Linked DNA regions of Homo sapiens. The protein of the gene in region 2 interacts with the protein of the main gene of each other region in a biochemical or structural test. Each region holds a gene or a part of one and is shown on either strand. Other genes may lie near its edges.

What was found. Proteins that work in one complex are often made in the same cells at the same time.
Region 1: the proteins of TRIM3 (region 2) and ESR1 form a complex in vitro, tested with the Homo sapiens proteins (one study listed by BioGRID).

What each region holds. Positions count from the first base shown.
Region 1 is NC_000006.12:151,814,182-151,817,681, forward strand, and holds part of ESR1 (estrogen receptor), read left to right. Parts: intron 1-3,500.
Region 2 is NC_000011.10:6,463,942-6,467,441, reverse strand, and holds part of TRIM3 (tripartite motif-containing protein 3), read left to right. Parts: intron 1-1,709; coding exon of another isoform or gene 1,710-1,746; coding exon 1,747-1,877; intron 1,878-3,500.

The DNA of each region.
Region 1 (3,500 bases), on a different chromosome or scaffold from region 2:
ATTTCTTTTATGGCCCTGAAAGCAAAAGACAATGTTCTCTTTTAGTTTCCTGCAATTAAATGATGTTAGAAATAGTCATCTTCACATTGGCGTACTTCCTCTTTCTTCTGTAGGTCTTTTAGAATTTTGAGTCCATTCTCATATTTTCTTGTTTCATTTGCTTTATTTTCTAATACATAGAAGTTTAAACTCCCTTTAAAGAGTTTTTGGCCTCTTTTACCCTATTAAGCTTTCTTTTTTCTTTTCTGTTTTAGTTGTTCCATCTGTGTATTCTCAGATATTTTTCTTTCACCTTTTCTGGTTTATTTCTTTATTGACCTGTCTCATCTGTTATTTTAATGAAATTTGGAACAGGGCTAAACAGAGTTCCTACCTCAGCCAGTATAAGAATATACCGTAATAACTCAGAGTGGTATTAACTAGATTAAAAGTTTCAAAAAGTGATGTTTTTCTTGTCTCTGAGGATAGAAACTTCAACAAAATAAAGAAGAAATTTTCAATTAGTAGAATTTCTTTGAAAGTTTGTTCATTCATTCATTTGGCTACCTTATTCCAAATTGAGTCATTCATTGAGGGCTTAGACTATATAAAGTGTGGTTTTGTTTTCCCAGCAGTTCATGCAACAGCATTGCACCTAGCAGCTGGGAAGTCTTATAGCATGAATAGGTGAGATTCTAATACCAGAATCTCCTGCATGTGTAAACTAACAGTGTAGTCTTGACTGTTGTCTCCCAGTAAACTTGGTTTCAGGAGTTTTAGATCCATGTGAACGTGTACAAGGCATTTTTGCTAACTGTAACTTCCCACTTAATCAACAAAAACAAAAACACTCATTTCTGAACATTCAGTGCATTCATGATTAATCTTAATTACACCACAAAGGTATTTTTCAATGGTGATTTTGCGGGAGTGGGGTAACAGTTTCGAAAGCAACATTGTCAGAAACATAGTTGATTTTAAAGGTTCTTTCTGGTGACTTTGACTTCTGCTTTTTTAGAAGACCTTACACAGAGTTGTATTTATTTCTCCTGGAATATTTCAAGCAATTCAGAGTGAAAGGGTATACATTCCAATTTGCGTATGAGATAAAATTTAGTTACATTGAGAAGCTATTTTCTTTAGTTACAGGGAAAAAATTGTAGGGCTTTTGGAAGCCTCTTTGATTTCTAATAGGAGGAATCCCTGAGCACTGGTCCAAACAGAAATCATCTCTTCTTCATTGCTGTATTTCCCTCAAGCTCTTAGCAAAGTGCATGGCACGTGAAAGCCCGGAGAAGCTGTTGGTTGAAAGAATGGATGGTGGTGGGCAGGAAGCATCAGGGACATGGTTTGCTTCAGTCTATTGGCTGGGAGAAAGGCCATTTAGGAAGGGATCCTTAGATGCCACTGGAAGAATGTGGGAAGTTTGTGAATCTCTCTTTCTCAGGAACAAAAGTAGAAAAAGGACTCCACACAGCATTCCAAGTACAGTCGGCCCTCATTATTCATGGATTCTGTATTTGCAAATTCGCTGACTTACTGACGTTTATTTGTAACCTTCGAGTCAACACTCACGGTGCTTTCTCAGTCCTTTGCAGACGTGTGGAATGGCAAAAAAATTTGAGTTATATGACGTATATGTTCCCAGCTGAGGCTGAGCAAGGCTCACTTCTCCTTGCAGCCCTCAGACTATAAACAAGTGTCCCTCTTGCTATCTACTTCGTGTTATGATTTTTGCATTTTCATAATCCCTGTTGATGATTTTGCTGTTTAAAATGGCCCCTAAGCATGGTCCTGAAGTACTGTCTAGGGATTCTAAGACAAGGCTCTGACGTGTCTTAAGAGAAAATACGTGTTTGATAAGCTTTATTCAGGCATGAGTTACAATGCTGTTGGCCATGAGTTCAATGATGGTGAATCAACAGGATATATTAAATACAGTGTTTTTGAACAGAAAAACATATAAAACAAGGTTATGTATTAATGAGTTGGCAAAAATGCTGTGACCAAAGGCTCCCAGGAACCTACCCTATTTTCCCCTCAATGCAATGGTTCAGTATTTGCTAATTCAGTGTTTGAGGTGACTTTATAGAACATGAGTACCATGAATAATGAGAATCGATTCTGTATAATAGAGTGATGAAAGCACAGGTCTGGGAGCCAGCAGCTATATTTCTATTCTGGCGTGACTCCTGTGTAGTTGTCATCACTGGCAAATTGCTTAACTGTGTGCCTCAGTTTCCTAATCTGTAAAAGCTACATCGTTTGGATGATGTGAGGATTAAACAAATTCATAGATGTCTAGGGCTTATAACATTCCTGGCACATAACAAGTCATTATTTTTTATTACTACTTCGGAAGGGAATTGAGTACTATACCCTGAAGAAGGTGAGTATGGGAATTCTCTACGGGTCTGGAATGTCCCTATATTTGTTTATTTTGCCTTCAAGTGACTAACTTTAATACCCTATTGTGATTAGAAGTTAAACTTCTGCAACCAAAAGGAAGCAGGAAGCTAGTATTTCTTGAAGTGCTTATTACATGCCAGGTACTGTGCTACAAAAACAAAACAAAACAACTGTAAAAAAAACTTCAAATTTGGCTGCGTGCAGCTGCTCATGCCTGTCATCCCAGCACTTTGAGGAACTGAAGGGAGGATTGCTTGAGTCCAGGAGTTCCAGACCAGCCTGGGCAACACAGTGAGACCCTGTCTCTACAAAAAAACAAAAACAAAAACAAAGGCACTCCAAATCAGTAAAAATTAATCAATCAATAAAAAGAGTGAGGGGCATTAAGTATTGTGGACTGAAGCAATCCCAGAGAGGGAATTAATTGAAGCTGAGGTAAGCAGCTTATGGAGAAGCTATGATGTACAGAGGGCAAGGAAGGAATTTTTCTGTAATTTGGAAAAATGGGAACTGTGAGAAAGAAGGAGTTGGAAGCTCATACTTAGGGAGCATCTACAAGGACGTCTTTTTCACGTTGGTTGGAATATCCAAATCAAGGATTATTTCAGAATCACCCAGATGATTAAAAAACTACTGAGATCCAGGTTGTATTTCAGCAGTTCTGACAATTGCTCTGGGTCGAAGCTTGAATCAGTAGTTAAGAAAAACAACAAACAAAACAAATTTTGGGGCTTTTCTCACTGATTTACAGTTAAAGCTCATTTACTCTTCCTATGACTTTAGATGGAGGATATTTCCAAGTCTTCAGGATGGAGACATGGAGGGAAGTGAGACTAGTGATGTGCCTCAAGGTTTTGCTGTTGTTCTAACCATGAGGAGCACTATTCAAACCCAGGTCTGCTAGATTTCCAAGTCTTCATTTCCTTGGGCCTCTTGGATTTCAGAAGCAGAGGGTAAAAGGAGTGCTGGGGAGAAAGATCACAGTAGCTTTCAATTCTACTCCTCAGCTTTCCAAAATAAGTTTCAAGACTGGCCGTTGCATTTGATATGGAATAAATACAAAGAAGGTAGATTGAAGGGTATGAAGATGCAGATTTTTGATACCAGATATG
Region 2 (3,500 bases):
TCATCTCTACCTATCTTCCCAAACTCACCTCTTCCTTTTATTGACTTGGCTCCAACCACACAGTCCTTTCAGGTTCTCCATGAGCCTTCTGCCTAAGAACCTTTATCATGCTGTTTCTTCAGCCTAGAATGATTTCCCTTCCTGACTCCCTGTTGTTTCTCACCCTCACCCATACCATTTTTCTCCCATCCACCCAGAATTCTGCTTAAAAGTTACCTCCTTGGAGAGCCTTCCCTGATGACTCAATCAAAAGTGTTCTTTCTCACAGCATCCCTTTTTTCTTTATATCACTTCCCTGCCACTATTATTTACTTTTAAAATATCTGCCACCACCTCCCCACCACAGGGACAGTGACCCTGTCTGTTTTATCATTCCATTCCTAACACCTGTACAAAGTAGGCAGTAAATATTTATTGAATTCCTGAAATCAATTCAGTAAATATAGATCAATCTTTATGTCAGGCTCTGTGCTAAGTGCTAAGAATGAAAACATAAAATAAAATATAAATAAATAAATAAAATGCCTATCCTCAATAACACTGCATGGAGTGGAGAAAGCAGAGAAGTAACAAGAACATTACAGCATAGCTTATAAGAGTTAGGATGGAGTAAATACAGGGTGCTGAGGGACACAGAGGTAGAGCACCCAAGCCAGACTCTGGGTAGTCATGGAAGGTCTTCTAAAGGAGGTGACATTTATATGGGGACCTGAAAGATGAGTAGGTGTCACATCAGCCAGGAAAAGGGGCCAGGAAAAGGATCCCAGGACAGAGAGAACGAATGCCTGATCTCCCAGAAGCAAAAGAGAACAAGGAATTTTCCAGGAACTGGAAAAAAAAAAAAAAAACCCAGCAGGAATGATTGATCATAGACTTATGAGACATGAGGTTGTAGAAAAGGTATGGGGCAAAGTTAAGCCTCACTGGTCAATATAAGGACTTTGGACAATGGATAACATTTGAAGGAATTTAAACAGAGTACTGACAAGATCAAATCTGTGTTTTAGAAAATTCATTCTGGCTTCAAGGAAGATAAATGAAAAGGTGTCAGTGAGGAGACAAGAACACCAGTTAAGAGGCTATTGCTGTATTCCAGGAGAGAACAGATGGTTGCCTGAATTAGGGGTAGTAACTGTGGGATTGGAGAGAAGGGTTTAAGATATTCAGGAAGCAATCCCGACCTTGATACTAACTGGGTGTGAAAAAGAGTGCAGTTTCAGGCAGTTGTGCTAAGAGGTGGGTCAGGGTATAAATGGAAGAGCTGCAGGTAGTTAGAGGAGAGACACTCCATTCAGGTCTCTTGGAGGAGGATTTGGGGGAGGTAGAGGAGATGAAGGGTAGGTATGTCAGTGAAAATGGACATCTCTGTACCATGCACTCAACAGGCACTATGTCACACTCTCAAATTATTATTCCTGTAATTACAAATTAAGAGACTGAGGCTCAGAGAAGTTACATGGATTGTCCAAGCTCACATAGCTGGTGAGAGACTGAGCCAGGTTTGAAACCCAATCTAATCCTACGTCTGTGCTCTTAAACAGAACACCAGGCTCAGAGGTCACATCACCCTGATCCTTCCAGTCACTGCCCTGTCTTGCCCCTAGCAGGGAAGAGGTGGGGGCAAGTTCTCTGCAGGGGATTTGAGTGGCGGGGATTGGGTGGGGAGAAGAAGTTCTGGACTCCCTGGTGCTGACCATCTCTCCATACAGAGGCTGGTGTGAGTGGCGGGAGCCATCTGTGGGCGCCATGGCAAAGAGGGAGGACAGCCCTGGCCCAGAGGTCCAGCCAATGGACAAGCAGTTCCTGGTATGCAGCATCTGCCTGGATCGGTACCAGTGCCCCAAGGTTCTTCCTTGCCTGCACACCTTCTGTGAGAGGTGAGGGGATGTGTGTACTGGGGAGGGATGAGGACCCTGTGGGGAGGATGAGGATCCTCCTCCCCTGTGGGGAGGGTGAGGGAGCATGTGTAAACCTGTAGTAGGTGAGGCAACATGCTTACCTGGGAGGAGAGCAGGTGAACCCCAACCTGCAGGAAATGAGGTTTTGAGGGCAAGAACCTGTGAGAGAACCATAAGAACCATAACACTGGGCCATGGTTCCTGTCAAGAATAGGGCCTTCTCTGTCCTTTCCCAAACCTCAAGGCAGCTTTTGACACCACCTAAGAAATCAAACAGTGCTCAGACTCAACCAGCTTTGGCATCAGCAATTTATGACTAGTTGGAGGATATTTGAAGTTAGGTCTGTCCTTCCCTGCTTGTCCTTGTTGTCCTCAGGTACTGAGTGAAAGGCAACCTGTCCCAGCCTCTAGGCTTCTATGGATCACTTATTCATTTAACAAATATTCATTTATTGAGCAACTACTATGTGCCAGACCCTGTTCTAGGCATTGGGTATGCAGTGATGAGCAAAAACAGATAAGATCCTTACTCTTTTTTTTTTTTTTTTTTTTTTTTTGAGATGGAGTCTCGCTCTGTTGCCCAAGGTGGAGTGTAGTGGCACGATCTCGGCTCACTGCAACCTCTGCCTCCCAGGTTCAACCAATTCTCCTGCCTCAGCCTCCGGAGTAGCTGGGACTACAGGCGCACGCCGCCACGCCCAGCTAACTTTTTGTATTTTATTACAGATGGGGTTTCACCGTGTTGCTCAGGCTGTTCTTGAACTCCTGAACTCAGGCAATCCGCCTACCTCGGCCTCCCAAAGTGCTGGGATTACAGGCGTGAGCTACCGTGCTTACTCTTTTTAAAAACTGATACACAATAGTTTACATATTTATGGGGAACATGTGATACATTGTTACACAAGCATAGAATGGGTAACAATCAAGTAGGGTATTTAAGGTATCCATCACTTACAATGCTTACTCTTAAAGAGCTAACAGTATAGTGAAAGAGAAAGATAGTCATCAAATAATCATATAGCCAGATTATAGATAAATATAACTTTTAGTAAGTGCTGCAAATAAAGTGCTGAGCTATGAGAGATTGGCATATGGAATCTGTTATAGTTTGGAGAATCAGGGAAGGTTTCCCTGAGGAGCAATTCAGAGGATGAATAGGAGTTAACTAGGTAAAGGGGGTTGGAAGAGCATTCTGCACAGAAGAAAGACCATTGGAAAAGCTCATGTGACATGAGAAAATATGTCAGGTAAGAGGCCTGGAGGAAGCCTGGTAGGGCTAGAGCAGAGTGAGTGTGACTGAGAGTATTATGGGATGAAGCTGGAGAGGTAGGTGGAGGCCAGACCACCTAGGGCTTTGTAGACCTGTTAGGGAATTTCACCTTTACCCTGAGAGCCACATGAAGCCTTTGCAGGGTTTTATATGTGATCACATCTGTATTTTGACAATATTCTCTTGGGCCCTTATCTCTCATTGTTCTGTCTTGGGTGGCCTGGTCCCTAGGTCTTCTCACCACCACTGCCTCTATCCGCACTTTTCCTCTGCCTTCTGCCCCAACGGAAACCTGGCTCTGCACCAGAGATACTGCTTCCCTGCCAGCCCTG